Regions from separate parts of the Homo sapiens genome. Here region 1 is linked to region 2. The links come from fine-mapping of genetic effects on gene expression. A gene starts in region 2. The other region holds a variant in brackets. All regions are shown on one strand. Distances are between the middles of the regions. Region 1 has its middle 7.0 kb from the start of MIR4697. Region 2 holds the start of LINC02731 (long intergenic non-protein coding RNA 2731).

The links. PIP is the estimated chance that this variant, and not a neighbour inherited with it, causes the effect. A credible set is the group of variants that fine-mapping cannot tell apart.
Region 1: its variant is the best candidate, but not a certain one, in a credible set for the expression of LINC02731 in tibial nerve (GTEx, PIP 0.67).

Annotation. Positions count from the first base shown.
Region 1 is chr11:133,888,853-133,894,221 of GRCh38, forward strand. No RefSeq gene overlaps it. Among named protein-coding and RNA genes, the nearest start is that of MIR4697, 7.0 kb to the right of the region's middle. The variant G/C (reference allele first, on the strand shown) is at 2,968.
Region 2 is chr11:134,029,135-134,034,503 of GRCh38, forward strand. LINC02731 (long intergenic non-protein coding RNA 2731) reads left to right here and starts at 3,138. Exons shown (of 3, transcript NR_027276.1): 1 at 3,138-3,726. RefSeq lists enhancers at 2,002-2,501, 3,202-3,929, 3,930-4,657.

The DNA.
Region 1 (5,369 bases), 140 kb before region 2:
AAATAACAACTGAAAAATAAACAGCAACCAGCAAAAATAAGGAAAACGATGATTGGGAAACCACAAAATAAAATGAATAAAAAATACAAAATAAGGTAGAATGCTGTATAAAGTATAACAGTCATTACTCAGTGTGAATGAACTGAATGATCCTCTGAAAAACAGACACCATCGGATTGAAAAATATTTTTACAAATATGCGATCTAGAAAAGTCAAACAGCATACTTTGAACAGAGACAAAGAAAGGATGGAGGTGTTCAGTGTTGGTAACAAGGCCAACCAGATAGCCTAAAAATCCTCTGCCCCTAAAATCTAGAATGCTGTATAGGATGTAGCAAGCATGCCTCTGAATGCATAGCTGAGTTGATAACTTCTTTAGCCAAAAGTGAAGAGAGAATTGGAAACCAGAGTGCTAAGTATAGGCCGATGCTCCAGTTGATCTGACAGAGAGAGAGGTAGGCGAGAGGGGAAGGGTCCAACCTCTAAGAAAAGCACAGGGACTGGCCCCTGGGGAGAGGTATCAAACACACAGGCCCTTGCAAGGCAAACTGTCAGTCCTGACAGAAAGCCAGGCCCTTCAAGGGACCACATCCTCGGGGAAAGGACCAACACATGGAGACGGGGATGCTCATTTGTCTTAATCTGATGTCCACGTGATTTTAGACCTTCTCTTGTCTCTCAATGAAGTCTTGCCATTTAACTCATAAAGGTCTTGCCCATTGTTTTCTCTTGTTTCGTTGTTGTCGTCACTATTATAAAGATGCCTTTTAAAACACGTTGTTTTGTTGCTGGTATAAAGAACTCCATCCACCTTGGGTTCAGCAATCTTGCTTGGTTCTCTTACTGTTTCCAATGGTTTGTCCATAGATTCTCACAGATTTTATATATAGATATTCATATCACTTGAAAATAATCAATGTTTTATTTTACTTTCTTTTAACCTTTTCTTGATTTACTTTTTAACCACATCAGTTGGATTTTCAGCCCAATATTTCATGGTGGCACTGATGCCATTTCTTTTCTTATTCTAGGCTTCAGAAGGACTGTTGCTCATGATTCCCCACAAATCATAACAGCTTCTGTAGGCTTCAGTAGACACTCAGTTCTGCATCAGCACCTTCAAGCTCAGCCCTGGCCTCCCGAGGACAGCTGTGCTGAGCTGCTCATCCATGCTGGAACCCTCTCACCAACCCATCCTTTATCTCCCTGGTGAATGGAGAGTCCTCCAGCCCAATCAAAAAGCACAGGCAGCCAGTGGGTCTTCTGGTATTCTAGAGTAGATCCATTCTAGCACGCCCATTTCCCTAAGCCTTTGGATCCCTTCAGCCATGATCTGCAAGGGAGTTCTGACACATCTATTTCATTTCATGTGGGCCGTCATTCTCAACAAGCCTCTAGGAACCACTCAGCAGCCATAAGAATTGCCTTATGGGGCCCTGGCAAGATTATTAAAACCTGTATCACTGGTGGGTGCCCCCATAACAACAAACTCTCCCCTGAAGAGCTTTCTAGTCTGGCCCCCTTGGCCCAGGACCCTCAGGATTCACCCCCAAGCACACTCCCTGGTCTGTGCCCAACACACACTAGCCAGATCCTTCAGCTCCTTGAAGAAATCCCTCTCCTCTCTTAGCAGAACCAATGCTTGCCTAGGGGGATATGCTGAGCTTTGATTCTCTTATTGGTCTAAGTGATAAGAAGGGACAAATGGGGCATCTGTGGATGGGAAAGCTGCTGAGGAAGTCAAGAACTTCTTGTAGAATACCTGCTTCATTTGAAGCATCTGCCTGTTCTTCAAGCAAGGAGGGGTTTCTGTCTTCCAGAAACGGGGAAAGGCCATTTTGGCAGGACCAGAAGTTTTGGGGAATCTGGAGACTCAAAGCCTTCCAACACATTTCTCTCTCTTTTCCCATCCCAGATGGTGGGTCTCAGTCTTTTCCTATTAGACCCTGACTTTGGCATATGAGACTCATCTGGTCTGAGATTCAGCCTGCTCCAGAATTCTTCTTCTCTAACAGTTAAGTCCTGGGTCTGGTCTTCAGCTTGTTCTGCCCTCCTGCTGCATATGGGAGTCTCTTTAAGGCCACCAAGGAGGCATGCTGACTCTCCTTTGCTTTAAATTGGAGATTGGCTGCCCTGGTCCTGCCTTTCCTCTCTTCAAAGCCTCAAGGGCATTCGGCCACTCCATCCCACAGTTCCTATCAGTGGTCTTTCTTCAGAACCTCTCAAATATAAGATGTTCTATGAACCAGTATATCCCTTTTCCTTGTACCTTCCCTGAGTTCTACATGGGTGGCCATCTTAGCAACTGCACTGCTAACACATACCAGCAACTGCTAATACTGTACCTGCCGCTATGATGGGGTCCTTTTGCCAGCCAGTGGTGAGTGACCTAATTCCTGAGTTCCAACCTTAGAGTCCCCTGGCATCCAGTCTTAGACTGGGTTCTCTAGGTGCAAAGCCTAAGCCAGGCAATGGGGTGGGGGGTGTTTTATTGTGGAAACTTCCAAGAAAAAAACTAAAGAAGTAAGGAAAGCTAGACAGGATTGGGGAAAGAAGTGATGAAGGATGTCATCTCAGGTGAATTCTAGCTGTGGCCTGATCCTGGAAAGCATCATAGAGACACCCTCTCTTTAAGGCAAGCAGGTGGCCTTTTGTATCCCTGTGCCAGCCATTAGCTGAGGGTCACTCCTGGCAGAGGAGCTTGTCATTTCTTGGGCAAGGGGGCTCACGTCAGTGAAGGGCACCTCTCCAGTGATGAGCAGGGTGGGAGGCACCTGTGAACCATGGGCCACCAACATGCAAAGAAGCCAGGGGATGGGCACACCCATCTACTAGAGGGGAACTGGATAGGACACTTTGGCACCCACAGTGCTCCTGAGCCCTAGAGCTATGATGTCCTGGGAAACTTCCACTCAGCAATCAGCTGTGCCATCAGAACTTCCCCTCTGCCTCCTAGCCCAAGATTT[G/C]TCAATAGTCACTGTCTCCACTTTCTCATCAACCCACTCCCACGGGGCTTCTGTCCCCACCGTGCCACTGAGGCCGCCTTGTCAACATCATTAATTACCTACCTCTACACGACACTCAGCTGCTTGTGTGCACCCCTTCTCTTCTCTGTCTACCCTCCCCTTCTAGGATTTAAATACCATCTCTCTGAGGACAATTCCCTAACCTGTATCTACACTGATAGGGTCCCTCTGGAATCCCAGGCCCACACATCTAGTGGCATCTGACCTGACATCTCCAATGGGAAGTTTAAGGACCGTTTCAGACCTTACAACTCTTGATGTCTGTCCCCTTTCATACCTCCTCCTCCCCCAGTCCTCTTTCTCAGTTGCTCAGGTCAAAAGCCAGAGTCATTCTTGATTCCTCTCTTTTCTTCACTCTCACGGCAAGCTTTTCAGCAAGTCTGTCGCCCCTCCCACACAGATCCAAACTGGTCGTCTCCTCTCCGCCTCTGCTGTGGCTGTCCTGGTCTAAACGCTTCTCAGCTGGGACTGTGGATGGCATTGTCATCTCTCTGTTCCCTCTGCTCTCACCCTCCTATAGTCCGCTCTCCACCAGCAGTCAGAGGGGTATTTCTAATACATAAATCAGATCAAGGCTTTGCCCAGCTTAAAACTCTCCGGTGACTTCCCAGCACCCCGAGAATACAATCTAACCCTCCTTCCCTTTACAGAGCCCTAGTGTGTCATTCATCCTCTTCCGCTGCTCTCTCCTTCCCTTCCCACTCATGGCTCACTCTATTCCTCAAACAGACCAAATCCACTCCTACCTTCAGGTCTGCAGAAACAGCACCTCTGCTTGGGAGGCTCTTCTCTGCTGAGCTGTACCTGACTGGCCCCTTCTCAACAATGTGAGGAGGCTTAAATGTGACTTCGAAGCCATCTTCCCTAGCCACCCAACCGAAAGCAAACCGCCCGTCACTCCACACCATCCTACTCAGTTCTACAACCCGCCTGTCACTCCACACCATCCTACTTGGTTCTCTGCATAATGCCCATGACACTTTCACAGGACTGGGTTGTTGATTGACTGGGTGACTGGCTGGATCCCTACATTAGAATGTAGGCTGTGGGAAAGCCAGGCCTCTCTGCTGGTTCCAGGCCATTTCTCCCTCCTCACACTGCTCCTCTGAGACGTGTGCCTTTTGGGTTGGCCACCAACAGGACTGATGGGGGCTCCACTGCCAAGGGGCTTCCACACTAGTGAGGCGGACGCACAAGGAGCCGGTGAAACGAAGCGCAGTGGAAGGCTGTACTGAGGTCAAGGAGCTGCCGCTGTGAAGGCCCACACCCACGAGAGGATGAAGGGGCCTCAGGTGTGAAGGGACACTTCCTGTTGCCCTTTGATGATTAAGGCCCCAAACTGAGGACACACAGGAGCTGAGCATCCCGCCCTGTCACGGAGCGCTGGTTACCTCCAGCACAGCTGAACAAGAGGCGGCACAGCTGGCCGTAGCAGCACACCAGGATGGCAGCAGGAAGGAGACGAAACAGAAGGTTGAAGTCCAGTCACTGGCCTTCTGAGGAGTGCCTGGAAGTGCTAAGAGGCGTTTCCCTCACCCTCCTTATGTGGGTGGAAAGGGCGTGCTTCTCCCTCAAAGCCAAGCGAGATAATGCTTCATAATGATCTGGCATAGAGAGGGGGACTGCCCGCAAGAAGGAGAAGGTGGCATTTCTCCTCGGAGGATGCCACTGAGCTGCAGACACCTGCACTCAGCCTGTGCTGCCAAGGCAGTCCCCGAAGACTTAGACGGGAGCCCTGTGCGTCTGCACAGACGTGTGTCTCCTGCCAAGAAAGGCTGCCTCCCTCCCTGCGGGCAGCTGCCTCAGAAAGGCCAAGGGATTTCCCCAAGGTCCCACTTTTTTTTTTTTTTTTTTTTTGAGACGGAGTCTGGCTCTGTCGCCCAGGCTGGAGTGCGGTGGCGCCTCTCTGCTCACTGCAAGCTCCGCCTCCCGGGTTCACGCCATTCTCCTGCCTCAGCCTCCCGAGTAGCTGGGACTACAGGCGCCCGCCACCACGCCCGGCTAATTTTTTGTATTTTTTTTTTTTAGTAGAGACGAGGTTTCACTGTGTTAGCCAGGATGGTCTCGATCTCCTGACCTCGTGATCCGCCCGCCTCGGCCTCCGGAAGTGCTGGGATTACAGGCATGAGCCACCACGCCCAGCCGGTCACCTCTTTCTTAACGGCACAGGCAGCACAAGGACTTTTTCCAGGGGTGGGGGGCGAAGGCAAGCCACTGTGAATGCAGATGACTTCACCAAGGCTGAGAAGCACAGGCAAAAGCAGCTTCGCAAAAGCAGTGATGAATCTAGGACGGGAATTGCAGGGTGCTGCCCACCTCTCTAGGCTGATGAACCAGGGCAT
Region 2 (5,369 bases):
AAAGCAAGGTGGGTTGGAATAAGACAGTTTGCCTTTTTGGGCCTCAGTTTCCTCTTCTGTAGTAATTGGGCCAACTAGTCCACTCAGATTCTCTAAATTGCTTCTCTGAGCTCTGGAACTTCCTTATATGTATTCCATACCTCCCTGCCCCTACTGACATGCCTTCCAACCCCAACAGCCCAATGTTTCTATCCTATCCAGACCCTGCCAAAATAGAAAGAGTACAAGGCAGTTGGTTTGTTGGTGTTATGACTTCTTTTCTTTTCAGGCAAGAAGTCAGATTTAAATTGTGCCTCAATCAGCACCGAAGCTGGAATGCTCAAGTCTCCTACACAATGGCTTACATAAAAACAGCTCACCTCTCATTTCTCTCTCTCTTTGTTCTGCTCTTTTCCAATCACTCGGTCAAGTAATATCTATTAAGTGGATATGTCTGCAAGGCACTGCGCAGAAATGTAATCCAAAATGACAAGGTCCTTGTCCAAGAGGAACTTAACAATTCCACAAGGATCCAGCACAGATGGGAGCTTTAAAGACAGCCCACTGCCCTCATGCAGGGGGGGAAGATAAAGGATTTTTTTAATGCCTTTTAATGTTTTAAAGTTTCTTTTACCTACTTCAGTTGTTAATTTTATAGTGACATCATGTTTTTGGTGTCTGTCTTTGAGTGTTAAGCCTGTCTTCTGTCTCCTCATCCAGGGAGGAAGTCAAGCTGCTCCAGACATCAGCACTCCACTTCACAAACTCACCACCCATGCTCTCTCCTGTGGGGACCTCAGCTTTGCACCTGGATGTGCCAACCTGGCTCCTGCATTTCCATACCCCAACACAAGAGTCTCAATGCAAGGGTTGTAACATGCCAGCAGTGTCTGTACAAGCAAACGATGGCACTCGTAGCATATGGAGGGCGTGGGGCAGTGGAGCTGTGCCTTCCCCTCTCCTGAGGCCCCTGGGCTTCGAGCAGTCTTCACGCTCCTGAGTTCTTTCTCAGAATTCCCTCCTAAACCTCTTAGCGAGTAAATGCTGCTTGCCATATCCTCTCTTCCTTTAGTCTTGACGCCTAAATACTCCACATCTGCTCCATAAATAATAACTTCTCTAGAGCTCTTTATAATTTACGAAGGGCTTGCACCTGTAGTTTCTCATTTAATCTTCTCAACCATCCTGCGGGACAGGGTTATTATTGCTCCTTCTTTACAGATAAGAACCTGAAGCTCAGGGAGATTTAGTGAGGGGCCCAAAGCCTCACAGCTGGACCCAGCTGAACTAAGCTGGACTTAACCGAGCTCTTTCGGCTTCTATATGAAATTAGAGGGAGAAACTGCTTCTCCCCACTGAGTTCTCTCCTCCCCTAACGTGTCACATCCCCTGCACCTGGTGTTCTGGGAAGCTCACATCTCAAGCTCTCTCCTGGACTCCTTATACTGCACAGAGCCCAGAGCTCCAGACACAACAAGAGGGGGTTCCACAGAAGAAGGGGAATAAAAGAGATAAAAGAGAGCCAAGGGCACCTGCTGCTCACTCCCGACCTGGGGACCAGGCAAAGTGGCCCAGGCCAACGTTAGAGTCCTCTGTGGTGGGGTCAAGGGTTTAAAACACATAGTGTGGTTTCAAGGGTTTCTTAGGGTTGATTTTTTTTTTCCTAGACAAATACAAAGAAAAATGAAGAAAAAATTAGGACAATGTCCCAGGAGCCTCAAGTAAAAACTAGGAAGCAGCTGGTGGTGGAGGAAAAGCCACGCCAGGGAGATAGAAATGGAGTCTCCAGGCCGGCTGAGGCGTGTGTTTAATGGAGGCCGGCTGTGCAGGTAGAGGACGGAAGTGTCGGGAGCCCTCCCTGCAGAAGAGGTGTGTCGACCCCACAGCTGCCAACGTGTCCCAGAATGAGGCCCCTCGTGAGTCTGCAAGGGCTGGAAAGCAAGCCTGCCCCAGGTATGCGTGGGGCGGGGGCTGAGCCTCCAGCGCCCCCAGTGTTCATAAGGAAGAGGTGCGTGGGAGCTCCCTGGGGGCTCAGGCCAGGGTCAGGAGCTGTGGAGAACTGCGACCACCCTGCTCCTGGCTACCTCGAGCCCACGCTGGCTCATTTGGCAGTGAGAAGACAAATGCCAGGTGGGGCTTAGGAGGAGGACGGTGGGGAGCATAGAGAGGTCGGTGGATGAGAAAGACGGGAGGGGACTGGGGCAGAGGAAAGGGCTGGGCCCCCAGGATGAAGGGGAAAGGCAGGCAGGTGATCTGCAGGTGGGAAGGAGAGAGAAGATGGGAGCAGAGAAGAAACCATGAGGCCAGATAACAGGGCAGAGAAAGGAGACGGAGAAGCCACAGGGGCTCGGGGAGTGACGTGACATGTGGGTCACCTGTGAGGGCAAGCACCCCAGTCCTCTCTTCCTAAAGGCTGGTGGAAACAGGGGGTAGAAGGTGCCGGATGCCTGCCACTCATGCCCTCTCCTGCCTTCCCCCGTCTCCCTCATCTCTGTACCCTCCCCTGGGGGCTGAGCCCAGGTTCTGCTCTGCTTCTGAGTCCTCTTGTCCCTCAGTTGCCACTTTCTGCGTTTTTCCAGACTCTTTCTGTCCATTCACCTGCCACAGACAAGGGCTAAAAATTCAGAAGCCAAGTTTCTGATGCCAGCTCTGTTCCTCAAATGCTGGGCCGCACTGGTGGAGTGCCCTCTAGTCTGAACTCCACAGCTGCTTCATTGATACCCCTCCCACGGAGTTGTAAGGGGATAATAGAGCGGATGAAAACGGACTGTAAAAGCACCAAAGGATGAAGACACTTTGGATCCTACGTTTATTTCCAGGACTGAAGCCCTCGGGTTTCTTTAAGAGGAGACGTCCTTGTGCTCGTCCTTGTCCTCGTCCTCCTGTGCACCATGGCTTTTGCTGTGGGCCTGACACACCTTGGGGCTGCCTTGTTTCAGGTCAGAAGAGGAGAACTTGTAGAGTGAGCCATGCTTGGGTGGAAGGTAGGTGGGCTCACCAACATCCTCTACACAATTAGTACAGACTGTGATCTGAGGTGGCGTCCTAGAGCTAGAGGCTAAGAAGTCTCATGCCTGAAGCAGATCTAGGCATTTAACACGCAGAATAAGCTAGGTGGGTTTTCAAGGAGCTGCTGAATATGCATGAGAGGCAGCAAGAGAGAGAGCAGGAGAATGAACATGGGGGAGACGCAGAGAAGCACACAGAGGCATGACTGATAAGGGCAGAGGAGGAAAGAAGGTCTCGGAGACCAGGGCATGAATGTGGTTGCACAGAGACGGGGAGAAGGATGGGGAGAAATGAGGAACAGGAAGAAGATTCCGAGAGAAATAAAGAGGCCGAGAGGAGCTGAGCCAGGCAGCCGGTGGAGCAGGCAGATGGAACAACAGAGACAAAGAACAGAGCCACAGAGTGGGCACACAGCAAGGCCTGGCAGCCAAGCCCTGTGGGTTTGGTGGGAGCAGATGCTTGTATGGGAGCAGCAGCTGATGGCCCCCAGCACGTGCATCCTTGTTGACTCCAGGCCCAGCACAGCCTCCTCGGCAGCCGGCCTTAGCCTGGAGGAGCAACCCTGGTCCAGAGAGGCAGACGAATGGCAGCCCTGCCCCGTGGGGGCTCCGGTTCTTCTCCTCCATCCTCCTCCAGGCTCCGCCCACCTGCTCCGTCTGCCTCCCAGGGCCTCGTGAATCCCAGGGAAGCCATGAGCTGCCACATCACGCCCGGAAGGAAGCGGGCTGCGTTGGAGGGGTGAGTGTGAACCGCTGCAGTGTGCTTAGCTCTTCCTCGGGTGGGAGCATGTGCAGGGGTGTGCACGCTGTGGGAGGGGCGAGAGGGGGAGAAACGTCTGGGCTGCACGGGAACTAGCGCCAAGAGGCTGGGACGAGGCGGGGTGGGGACAGATCCCCGGCAGCACTGCTGGCACAGCTGCCACGCCCAGAGCCCTCTCCACCCCTGGCTGCCTGGATGTGAGCATCTGCAGCTCCTTGCCGCCACCCAAGCCACCAGACTGCCATAACCTCTGAGCGGAAAGGATCTGAGTGGACCCTGGTTTTTGGGTCAGAGGAGCCTTGGGGCTTCCTTGACCTCATTCTCTCCAGCTGCTACCCACAGGCCATTTTCCCATCACTCTACAATAGTCTGGTGTGAGTGGTGCCCCCACCCCAAGAAGCTCAGAAGGGCCAGGGAGAGGGAGGTTTCCACCAGGACCTAGCCTTCGCCCCAGTCCAAAGGCAACTCCCACACTGCCCTCCACACCCCCTCAAGCCCCTCCACAAAGGACATCGTCAGAACACTACAGGGACACCCCGACATCAGGCTCCCCACTGTGCCTGGGGCAGTCCTCGCTGGTCCCACACCCAAGGTCAGGGGTGCCTGCCAGTGGCCCAAAGTGCACAAGAGGCAAGCCCTGGGAGGGAAGAGGGTAGAGGGGAAGCGGGTGGGGAGGACAGTGTCGATTGCAGGCGCAATCCGAGCAAAAGACGGGCACCACAGGAGCCAGATGGGCCAAGAAGAAACAGAAGTTCAGTAGGAAGAGACAGATAAACAGCAGACACCAAGCAAGCAGCCAAGCATATGCTTTGCAAGCAGGCAACACAAGCACCCAGTAGGGTTTGGGGGCTGGGGAGGGTACATGAGCCCACAGGGAGGGGGACATTAGGTTTGCTGTGGGCTGACTCTGCCTGGTTAGAATCAGTGATCTAATCCTCTCCACGGAGCCTCAGAAACATGGAGCTGCAGCCGGTGCTGGCAAGGAAAAGCAGCGTTTGGCAGGGTGGAAGGAAAGAGTGCTTATGCTGGTGCCCGAGAGATTGGTCTCTGGTAGAAGAAACATAGCCCCAGACTTGGAAGCCCGAATAGCCACGTGCTGTCTCCAAGACTCAGAGCAGAGACCCCTAAAGCTGAACCGGATTCACAAGAGGAGCAGAGGACCGCCTCCCGCAAACCCGGGAAGTCCTTGAGCCCTGCAGGTGCCGGCTTTCCCTGCTAATGAAGCCCATCTAGGCTGGAGCCCTCAGTCTGGGTGATGTCATCCTTTTGAGCTTCAGGCAGGCAAGGGGTGGAGCCAGGCTAGAGCTTTGCAGAGTTTGCACGCTCCACCCCTGACTGCTCTGACTTCTGGGCCCTGTCTACCCAGCTCCCTCTTGGCCACGGCTTCCTGGCCAGCCCTGCTGGAAACCGGGAGCTGCTGCAGAGCTGGAGGAGGGAGGGGGTCACCCAGATCACCTCTGCAGAGAGCAGGGCCTGGCCGGGGATGGGCTTCACAGAGGCCCTCTTCCACCCATCCATGCTTGTTCCTACGTTCACTTCAGGGAGCCCTGAGGTTTTGCGGGAACCCAGGGTCCTGGGACCCCAGCCTCAGCCTCTCCCCTCCACCTAGCATGTCCAGAAAT